Linked DNA regions of Homo sapiens: region 1 is linked to region 2. The links come from fine-mapping of genetic effects on gene expression. A gene starts in region 2. The other region holds a variant in brackets. All regions are shown on one strand. Distances are from middle to middle. Region 1 overlaps KDELR3 (KDEL endoplasmic reticulum protein retention receptor 3). Region 2 holds the start of JOSD1 (Josephin domain containing 1).

The links. PIP is the estimated chance that this variant, and not a neighbour inherited with it, causes the effect.
Region 1: its variant is the best candidate, but not a certain one, in a credible set for the expression of JOSD1 in nasal epithelium (TOPMed, PIP 0.58).

Annotation. Positions count from the first base shown.
Region 1 is chr22:38,481,605-38,486,980 of GRCh38, forward strand. KDELR3 (KDEL endoplasmic reticulum protein retention receptor 3) reads left to right here. Exons shown (of 5, transcript NM_006855.4): 5 at 892-1,843. The coding sequence ends at 932. DDX17 (DEAD-box helicase 17) reads right to left here. Exons shown (of 13, transcript NM_006386.5): 13 at 1,834-4,836. The coding sequence ends at 4,331. Among named protein-coding and RNA genes, the nearest start is that of KDELR3, 16 kb to the left of the region's middle. The variant A/G (reference allele first, on the strand shown) is at 2,331.
Region 2 is chr22:38,698,619-38,703,994 of GRCh38, forward strand. JOSD1 (Josephin domain containing 1) reads right to left here and starts at 2,325. Exons shown (of 5, transcript NM_001360236.2): 1 at 2,182-2,325; 2 at 1,185-2,000. The coding sequence starts at 1,369. RefSeq lists a silencer at 1,832-2,791.

The DNA of each region.
Region 1 (5,376 bases), 220 kb before region 2:
ATTTTCAATAAAGAAACAAATGCCATAAAAACATGCAGGCCAATAGGTTATGTGTACTATGCAAGACAGCTGTGAGATGACATTTGACAGAATACTTGGTTAGTAGTGAAAAACATTCCAGAACTTATTACAAGCCCCAAGGCAACCACCAGCTTGGTGTGATGGACAAAAAGCCTAGTGGGGTCAAAATCTATAAACCTGGAGATGAGTCAACCAAGACCAGTTCACATAGGGCAGGGGTGTCCAACCTTTTGGCTGCCCTGGCCCACACTGAAGAATTGTCGTGGGCCACACATAAAATACACTGATAGCTTATGAGCAAAAACAAACAAAAAGACACTTCATATGTTTTAAGAAAGTTTACAAATTCGTGTTGGGCCACAAAGCCATCCTGAGCCGCGGGTTGGACAAGCTTGACCTAGCGCCTCGTAGGCCAGGGTAAGGGGCTTGCACTACATTCTGATTGCCAAGGGCAGGTATTGGGTCATTAAAAAACCCAATCCACTAGCTGCTATGTAGGGTAGAAAGCAGTCCAAGTACAGTGACTAGCTATGGGGCAGTTGCAGTTGATCAGGAAAAAGGCTCTAGGTAGAAAGACATGTGGACACAAGTTCTAGGACTTGAGAAGGACTGCTGATTTGATTGTATGAGATGTACAATAGACAATTTGAGGCCAATCGCTAAGTTTACAGCTGGGGGGAAGGGTGCCAGTAACCAAGTCGGGGATCAGTAGGTCCATAGTCAACCGGAGATGGACTCCCCCTTTGCTTTAACAATCGAACATATACTGTGAGCCGGCCATTAAGAGATGATACCAAGATTATGCATCAAGTTATAAAGCAGTCCTTTCATCAGATGGTAAATTCTTATTTCATCTCCATTTTCTTCCAGTCCTTAAGGGAAAGAAGTTAAGTCTTCCAATGCCAATCTGAGGACCTTCAGAGACAGTCTACGCCTTAACAAGCACATGAAGGAAACTATTTTGAATGTTCTCTTTGGCAACTTATCCATAATTTGGGATCAAATGTTAAAACCAGAAAAGTGTTTAGTGTGGATTTCAGCAAAACCTGATCATCCCACCCAGAAGACCTTCTCATCAATAGATCGCCCTTAAAGACCCATTGTAAGGTCATAAAAAACCTCGGCCACCTGCACAAAGATGGTGCCTCACTGCAACAAGAAACCTTAAGGTGTCTTACCGACGAAATAAAAAACATAAATGATTGTTCTCCAAGGCCTGAGGGCAAGACTCATGATGAGCAAGTCAACCCCAATCTGGAACAATGTCCCTCCTCTTAGAATGTCCCAACTAAAGACCAGTTAAAATATTAGGGTACGTTCTTGTGAATTTCCACTTTCCAGGTAGATGACCAAATTTAGGTGGTCAAGATATAAAGGTGTCAGCTAGTTTTAAGTGTGAAACTTATTTCACTTTCACACTGCCTTCAGGCCAGAAGCAAACCAAATTTACCAGGTTTGGCTGGAGGAGTTTTGTGACTCATCTTTTACTGGTTTGAATTTTTTCAAACCAGTGGCTGATACCTGCCTTGTACTTAGTACCTTAATACCAATAACCTAATGGTACTTAGGCGAGTACCATTTGCACAATCACTGTTTTACTTATGAGCAGATACAGATATATCCAAACCCTTACCTACTAGGTATCCTGCTAGGGTTTTCAATTCCAATTCTTGTATTAAGTTTTTTCCTTTCAGTTTTAGGTGCGAAAGTAATCAGTCAATCCAATATCCCCCATCTTTGTCTTGAAACAAAAACTGTTTTAAGACGTCTACGTTGAATTATTCAGAGAATTAAGCAATAAAAGCTCACACCTTATTGTCAACAGTGTTTTTATTTATACCTACAAAAAGAAAACAAGATGATGGTATCAAAAGGACAATTTACAAACTAAGAATAGTAACATAGCTTTCAGCATCCTGTGCCTGAACATCACACATCTACAAGTCTTTCAAGTCTTAATGCAACAGGAATGTGTCTGGAGACCAGCAAGAACATCAATAGAGAGCACTGATCCCAAGCAAAAGCCACTAACCTTTTAGATGAGAAGTCCACACAACGAATTGTTAGGGAGGATTGGGGAGAAGCAGCCCATTGCTTAATACATTGGAACCCTTTCCCTAAGTTGAGTTTCAACCATGAATGCAATAACTAGCATAAAACGATTCTTCTGCTCATGTTCTGAAGCCAACAGCAGAACCTGAATTATAAGTGACAGACATGGAGGCAGAAGAGTTAAACTCTGCTAGATTTCAGCTGTGCTCAGGCCATAATAGTTTTTGAGGTTTGGAATTTACTGTTATTTTATGATT[A/G]CAATGTCCCAGGTGGAAAAAGGGAAGCAAGCAATCCAAATAACCACTTGCTTGCCCAGAGACCTTTCCCTCAAACAGATGCTTTCAAGAGCTGCGAGAGAGTAGGGCATCCCTTGTGGTGGTACCTCTATGTTTAAAGAAAGAAGAAAAAAACCCAGAATTTGGTTGTAGAAAACAATGCCCACAACAGACTGGCCAGTGCTTAGACAAATTTGGGGTTGGGGGGAACACTTTGGTTTGAAAGCACAGAGCAGTTTGCCATGTTTCTTCTGTGCCTACCATTCTCCCTTGGCCTCAACTTCTGTAAGATGGGGGGGGGACAAAAAGAGAAGTAAAGTTAAGAAGAAAGTGGAAAATTAAAAAAAAAGATGTCAAAGTTTTTACATGCATATATTTCAGCTTATGCTGAAGACCTACCTGTATGTTGCACATTGAATCATACTTTCAGAACCCCTCAGAAACCATCCCTCTCTCCCTAAAGAATTTTAAAAGGAAAACAAAACCTCGAGTATAGATCTTACAGATGAGCAAGCATTCAGGCCTTAGCCAAAGAATGCAGTGGAGCCTTCCCCCTTCAACTGCATTGTGAATGAATACCAATTAACAGCATAAAAATTAATAGTCCCATATCAGATCTGGAAGGGGTTTCTGGGGCTGTCTGATGTCCCTATCCTGTTGTAGTGAACACAATAGCAGAAAATTCTTTCTGGGTCCATCTGCTATAAAGTCTTGGTAAAACAGCATTACCATGAAGAGGATGAACTCACCTACCTTCAGATGGAGGAAAAGTGAAAAGGACTTAGGCTTTAGTCCTCCATGACTTTTCTTAAGCACTACCTACCTGTAATAAGCTGAGTGCAAAAGGATGCCGAAGAAAATCTGCACCCAGAAGCTGTTAGAAAGCACTGCAGAGAACAGGGTATGAAGAAAATAAAGAGTTCTTAATAAACCCTTAAGATTCTTTGTTCAAGGTAACTTTGCCAAAAGGGCAGAGTAGGTGGCAAAGAGTTGCTTTTAATCTAGCTCTACACTGCATTTGAAAATAAAATTTGCCCATTTTGAATATATTGTTTATAATTAAATGTGCTTTTTACACTGCAGGTCAATATAAAAACTGGTTAGTAAATTTCCAGCGAGCATTTATGTTCATTTGCTCACAGCAGCTGTCTGGATGGAAAATTAATTTCACAGATGGTCCCCAGTTAAACTGGGAAGAAATATAGGCAGCTTCCACCCAGATGCTGAGATGCTACAGTTTAACCACTACAATAAACACTTGTGGTTTTTAATTTAAAGGATACACAAAACTCAGCAATTCAATTTCTAGCCTGACACTAAAATGGTTATTTTTCAGTAACGGGGGGAGAAGTGGGGAGGCAGAGTGTGAAGGGAAATAAAACCAATTAGTAATTTTTAACTATCAAATGCACTCCAGCAATCAGTCAAAACAGGCCCGAGGAAACCTGTTCCAACTTAAGAAACATTTAAAAGCACAAAAGAAAATGTGCAGGGCAATCCCTCTTTGTTTTCTAACCCAGTAATGAGAAATTTAAAGCACAGATGCCATCTTCCTCTGCAAAACAATTCAGCCCTCCCCCTCCCTCCCTCCCCACCAACTCAGAAAAACAAAACATGGGGCTCCCACAAAAGGGCCTAATACCTTACTCTTTTAGATGAAAAATAGCTCAAATATCTTCAACATGCAAGAAGTTGGGGGAAGAAATTAATCTCTTCCAGTCAGCTATATATATATATATATATTTTTTTTTTTTTTACAAAATGTTATTCCAGACTGGATCATTTTGGTGGGCAGAAGAAACCTGGCAGTGAATTCTAACTAATCTGCATGAAAAGACAAATCACGATGGTTGGGGGGAAAAATTAAAAAAAAAAAAAGAAAAAAGGAAAAAAAAAGAAAAGGCGAAGAGGAAAAAAAAAGGAAAGACAGTGTTCCTTAAAATGTAATTAAGTCTGCTGGAGTCACTACCACTTGAGTGGTTTCATTTACGTGAAGGAGGAGGAGGGGGAGGAGGAGGAGGGTATTGGTAGGCAGTCTGCCCCATGTAACCTATCATATTGGTAGCTCCCGGAGGCTGTGCAAACTGTTGTGACATCAGTGGCTGTGGCTGCTGCCCAGACCGGCCTATCCCACTAAACTGCTGGCTAGAGCTCTGTGAACTTCTCCCAGTTGAGGTGGTGCTACTAGCTCCATAAGTGCCAGCACCATATTCTTGAGCTGTATAGCTACTGGTGCCATAAGCAGCTGCCCCATAGGTGCCTTGACCATAGGTGTATTGGCCTGCTTGTGCTCCAAAGGCAGAATTTGGACTTCCATAGCCACTGCCATTAGCATAACCAGCTCTATCGGTTTCACTACGATCCCGATAGCTTGCAGAGTCTCTCCGGCCACCATCCTTGACTCCTCGAAGCCTTCGGTCACACTCATCCTGATACATCAGATTGGGATTGTTGGCTGAAGAAGTGGTCCGGTAACGAGAACGACCACCTAATGGGAAGATACAAGAAGATTTTTAATGGCAGATATAGGACCTAAACATAACAATGTAAAAATTCTACTGGGTACAAAAGTATTAAACATGTCTCCTTGATATTTAGTTATGCTGGCCAGCCTCCCAATTAGTACTGTAAAAATATACTCATAATTTGATTCTTTAATGGGGCACATTCAAAAGCACAGTAAAAATTAAAGGACACTAGACCTTTTCACCCTTTTAGGCCCCTTACTTGAGGATGATCAAGAAACACGGTATTACAATATGAAACCTTGAGTCAGGAAGCCCAGATCCTAGGATATTCTGCAACTGTAGATGCAACTGCTATGTCTCAGTTTCTACCCACCACTAAACAGTGTAAAATGACTGACCTCTCCGTATGGAAAACTGGAAACCTAATATACTACTAAGCATTTTTGAAAGTATTAAAAAAGCAACCATGACCGGGGGCACACTGGCTCACTCTCGTAATCCCAGCACTTTGGGAGATCAAGGCAGGAGGGTCACTTGAGGTCAGCAGTTCAAGACCAGCC
Region 2 (5,376 bases):
TAGTCGGGGTCATCAGGCAAGATCATCACCTGAGTTGCTATGGACTGCAGCCATGCTGTTGTGTCCATTAAGACACCACAGAACTGACTCTCAAAACCTTTAATAAAGTAATTCTAGAAAATCAAAGCAAAGAGAAAAAAGCTGAACTTCTTTTTTTGTTTTTCCGAGACCCGTCACCCAGGCTGGAGTGCAGAGTGGTGCAATCTTGGCTCACTGCAACCTCCACTTCCCAAGTTTATGCGATTCTCCTGCCTCAGCCTCCCGACTAGCTGGGACTACAGGCGTGCACCACCACACCGGGCTAATTTTTGTATTTTTAGTAGACACGGGGTTCCACCATGTTGGACAGGCTGGTCTCAAACTCCTGAACTCAGGTGATCTGCCCTCCTCGGCCTCCCAAAGTGCTGGGATTACACCGTACTTGGCCAAAACCTGAACCTCTATTAACCTGTGGGGTGGCATTTGTTCTAAGTGGGTAAGAAAGGCCATCTAGAATAAAGGAGAAAGAAGAGATCTGGAGTCAACTTCAAATTATAGCTTTGCTATTTAGAAGCTATTTGGACATATTACCTGACCTTTCTGCCTATCAGCATAATACAGGCAGTGAAATGACTGTTGGGAGAGCTTCACAAAGCAATGTACGAACAGCACTACTGCCAGCACATGGCCTCACAGAAAAGCTGAGCATTGTTTATACATCTTGCTTGTGGTACCCACCACATTCCACCTTTAAAGACAGGTGACTGAACGTGTACGTATCTAGTCCCACTTCTAGACTGTAAACTCCTCGGCAGCAGAGCTTTACAGGCATTATAGCATAGTGGTCAACAGCATAGATATAAGAATTCAACCCCAGCTCCAAGTCTTGTTATCTTGGGCGAGGTACTGAACTAAATGTGTCTTCATCAGTAAAATGGAAATAACATCACATATTAACACGTATTCCACGGGACTGTTGAAGATCACTCAAGAAAACACAGCTGAGGCTATGAGTACTTTCCTAGCCCACCGTAAGTGCCTGATAAATGGTAGTGATTATCTTTTCATGTCTTGTGTCCCTTATACCTGCTAACGCAATCTAGCTAATACCTACAGCTTTGAAGGTTTATGAAGCTGAGACACTGCCCCACCCACAGAAATCCAGAAATATCAGTATCAAGATGCCAAGGAGAAGGGTCCCCTACCTCTGGAAAATCTCTTGCAGCGTATCCCGGGTGAAGGCATTGCTGTCCTGGAAGACGTTATTGAGGGCGTGGAGGGCACAAAGCTCCCTGCGCTGTTTCTCATGGTAGATTTGTGGGGGTGCTGCCTGGGGCAGCTCCAATGATTCAGATTTGGCCTTGTCTCCTTTCCATGGCACACAACTCATGTTTTTTGTTTTAGGTTCCAGAGATGGCTATAAACACCCCACTCTTCCCTCTAGAGGAAGAATGTAAGCTTCTCAGTCTTTTCCGGATTCCTGAGGTCCACCTTATTCTCTGGTGTCCATGATTTATGCTTTGTCACTGGGAGAAAAGATTGGAATCAAAAGGAAAAAAATAAAACCCACCTCTTCTCTCTTCTCAATAGAAAAATAACTTTTGGATTACTTTTATTTTGCTACCACTGTCAAAGTGCAGAATTTAAAAAAACACATAAAATGTAAGACCTTGTTTCCGTTTCCCCACCCTTCCCTCCCACCCCCCTCCAAAATCCCCACGATTTTCTTGCTGTTTCCCTCTGCAAATGCCAGGCCTCAAAGCAGGAGGACCGAACACAATCGGTCACATCGCTCCTTTTCTTCCATTTCTTTTGAACCACGACGCCAATGACTCGGGAGACAAGGCCTGGGTGACGGATAAATTTAGCGCACGAGTCGAGTAGCTAGCGCGGGCCGGCAGGCGTGGGACCGCGAGCCGCGCGGGGGCCTCGGGGGCAGCCCTCCATCCCCTCGGGTACGGTGGGGCCCGCAGGGCGCGGCTCCCTCGGAAGGCGCGGATTCTAGCCCTCTGGCCGCGGCCCTGCGGAGGAGGAGACAACTCCGGTCAGCGGCGAGCGGGCGCGGGAAGTGAGCGGCGGGGCCGGCCCCTGCCCGAGGGAAGGTTCCGCGCGGCGAAGGGCTGGCCCGCGAGGGGTGGGGCCGGACAGTCAGCCTCGCGCTCCCGGGCCCGCGCCCACCCGGCTCGCAGCCCCTACACAAACCTCCCCGCCCGTCACGTGAGCGCAGGCCCAGACGCCCTCCCGCCGCGCCCCCGGCCGCAGACCCCAGGGCCGCCGGGACTGCTCGCCGCTGGCGGTCCCCTCACCGCAGCCGGCCGCCACCTGGAGTGCGCGCCGCCAACTGGGCCGTGCGGGCGGGCGCGCGCACCTGAGCCCGACGTCAGCGGCCCCCGCCCGGCGCGTGCTCCGGAAACGCCCTCCCGCGCCGTCCTCACTCCTCCCAGCCGTGGCGTCACGCCTGACGTAAGTCTGACGTCATCGGCACCGGCCTGGGAGCCGCAGACGCCGGGCGTGTAGGGGCGCAGTTCAACGGTTGGGGTGTTGCAAAGGCCGTGGGTGTGGGGCTGCGGGCTGCGCACCTCGGCGGCGGCCGGCAGGGTTGGGGTCCAGCCGCTCCGCTCGGCGCGGCCCCTGGCGGGGCGGCCTGAGGGAGTCCTACCTGGACGCCAGCCTGCCCTTCTCCCGGGCGTGGGCGTTGTTTCGGGGCGGCAGCCAGGCCAGCGGCTGCAGTCCGCGGCTTTCAGCACCCCTCCCTTCTCTGTGCCGGGCTTTTCGGCCGAACGTTCTCGCTCCTTCTGCGTTGACTGTTTTATGTGTGGTTAACGCGCGGCTCACCAGGGGGGATTTTGAAGCACCTGATTCGGTCGGGCGCAAATTGCCTTGGTTAGTGGGCCCGACCGTGCCGCACTGTCCAGGGAGCGTCAAGGGTAGGTGTCTCGCTGGGAGTCACATTTCAAGTGGAAAGGAGAATCCTGTTGCAGTTCCTTGGTGTCGCATTTCGGTTCACTACACACAAGCCACTGCCTTCTTGCCTGGGGGCTCCCCGCTCTTCTCACGGTGGCTTTCCTCTCTGCAGAGACCTCTGCGCGAGGTATACCTAAGCGCATTGTGTGCGTCTTCGGGAAAAGGCGAAAACTACTCGCAGTCCCACGTGGATTTCATTTTTTCCCCTTTACCTACTCTTAGGGTGCGTGGTAGGCATCATTATCCACCTTAGCTGCCCTTCTTTTGGGTTTTCTGTAAAACTGGAAAAACGAGAAGAAACTGTTGCACTTCAAATTTAGTTGTTTTGTTTTGTTTTTTGGAGACGGAGTTTCGCTCTTGTTGCCCAGACTGGAGTGCAATGGCATGATCTCCGCTCACCGCAACGTCCGCCTCCCGGGTTCAAGCAATTCTCCTGCCTCAGCCTCCCGAGTAGCTGGGATTGCAGGCATGCGCCACCACGCCCGGCTAATTTTGTGTGTTTAGTAGAGGGGTTTCTTCATGTTGGTCAGGCTGGTCTCGAACTCCCGACCTCAGGTGATCCACCCGCCTTGGCCTCCCAAGGTGTTGGGATTACAGAAGTGAGCCACCGTGCCCGGCCTTTTTTTTTTTTTTTTTTTTTAAGATGGAGTTTAACTTTTGTCGCCCAGGCTGAATTGCAACGGGGCGATCTCGGCTTACTGCAACCTTCACCTCCTGGACTCAAGCGATTCTCATGTCTCAGCCTCCCGCGTAGCTGGGATTACAGGCTCCTGCCACTACGCACGGCTAATTTTTGTATTTTTAGTAGAGACGGGGTTTCACCATGTTGGCCAGGCTGGTCTCGAACTCCTGAGATCCACCCGCCTCGGCCTCCCAAAGTGCTGGGATTACAAGCGTGAGCCACCGCGCCCGGCCTGAAGTTTTATTATTTTTGAGACAGGGTCTTGCTCTCTTTCCCAGGCTGGAGTGCAGTGGCGCGTTCACGGCTAACCCACAGCCTCTGGGCTCAAGCGATCTTCCTGCCTCAGCCTCCTGAGTAGCTGGGACTACAGGCATGCATCACCACACCTGGCTAATTTTTATTTTTATTTTTGTAGAGGTGGGGTTTCATCACGTTGCCCAAACTGGTCTCGAACTCTTTCCTGGGCTCAGGTGATCTGCCCATCTTGGCCTCCCAAAGTGTTAGGATTACAGGTGTAAGCCACTGCACCTGGCAAACGTGACTATTTTAACACCATTACCCTCAACGTTATGATTTAACACGCTGGAGTGCCTGCCTCAGGGTGAGGAGCCCTCTGGCTCTGTCCAGCCAACTTTTGAATTAAATTTTTGTGGCCGGGCGTGGTGGCTCACGCCTGTAATCCCAGCACTTTCGGAGGCCGAGGCGGGCGGATCATGAGGTCAGGAGATTGAGACCATCCTGGCTAATACGGTGAAACCCCATCTCTACTAAAAAATACAAAAAAAAAAAAAAAAAAAAAAATAGCCAGGCGTGGTCGCGGTCGCCTGTAGTCCCAGCTACTCGGGAGGCTGAGGCAGGAGAATGGCGTGAACCTGGGAGGCGGAGCTTGCAGTGAGCCGAGATCGTGCTACTGCACTCCAGCCTGGGCAACAGAGACTCCATCTCAAAAAAAAAAAAAAAAAAAAAAAGTAATTTGTAAGCTACCCACGGCTATGGTTATATTTACATATGAATAGTTTGAGGGATTGCTCTGCAGCAAGCAGTGTTCTAAGTGCTTTACATATATTAGTTCATTTACAGCTGATTTTATCCTATTAGATACTTTATTTCTTTAAAGGAGAAAACAAGCTCTAAGAAGTTAACTTGCTTAAAAGGTCACATACATATGATATGTGAACCCAGTACATAGTGAATACAGAATTTGAACCTAGGCTCCAACTTTTCTTCGGAAAGACGTGTAGATGGGTAGGGTAAGGAATTCCTTCTATAAAATGTCATGATAGAGTTCCCTGTTCAATTCAAAAGTACCTGCTCTGAGAGTTCTTTTCTGGGTAAAGGCTATAGTGCAAAGGGTATTTTTTTAGTTCGCTATTAGCTGTCAGCACATTCTGGACTTGAACTCTTTTTTTTTTTTTTTTTTTTTTTTGAGATGGGGTTTCGCTCTTGTTGCCCCGGCTGGAGTGCAATGACTCGATCTTGGCTCACTGTAACCTCTGCCTCCCGAGTTCGAGCGATTCTTGTGCCTCAGCCTCCTGAGTAGTTGGGATTACAGGCATGCACCACCACACCCAGCTAGTTTTGTATTTGTAGTAGAGACGGGGTTTCTCCATGTTGGTCAGGCTGGTCTCGAACTCCCGACCTCAGGTGATCTGCCCACCTTAGCCTCCCAAAATGCTGGGATTACAGGCGTGAGCCACCGCATCCGGCCGACTTGAACTCTTTGGAAGAGCCAGTTGGTGAGATGCTATCAA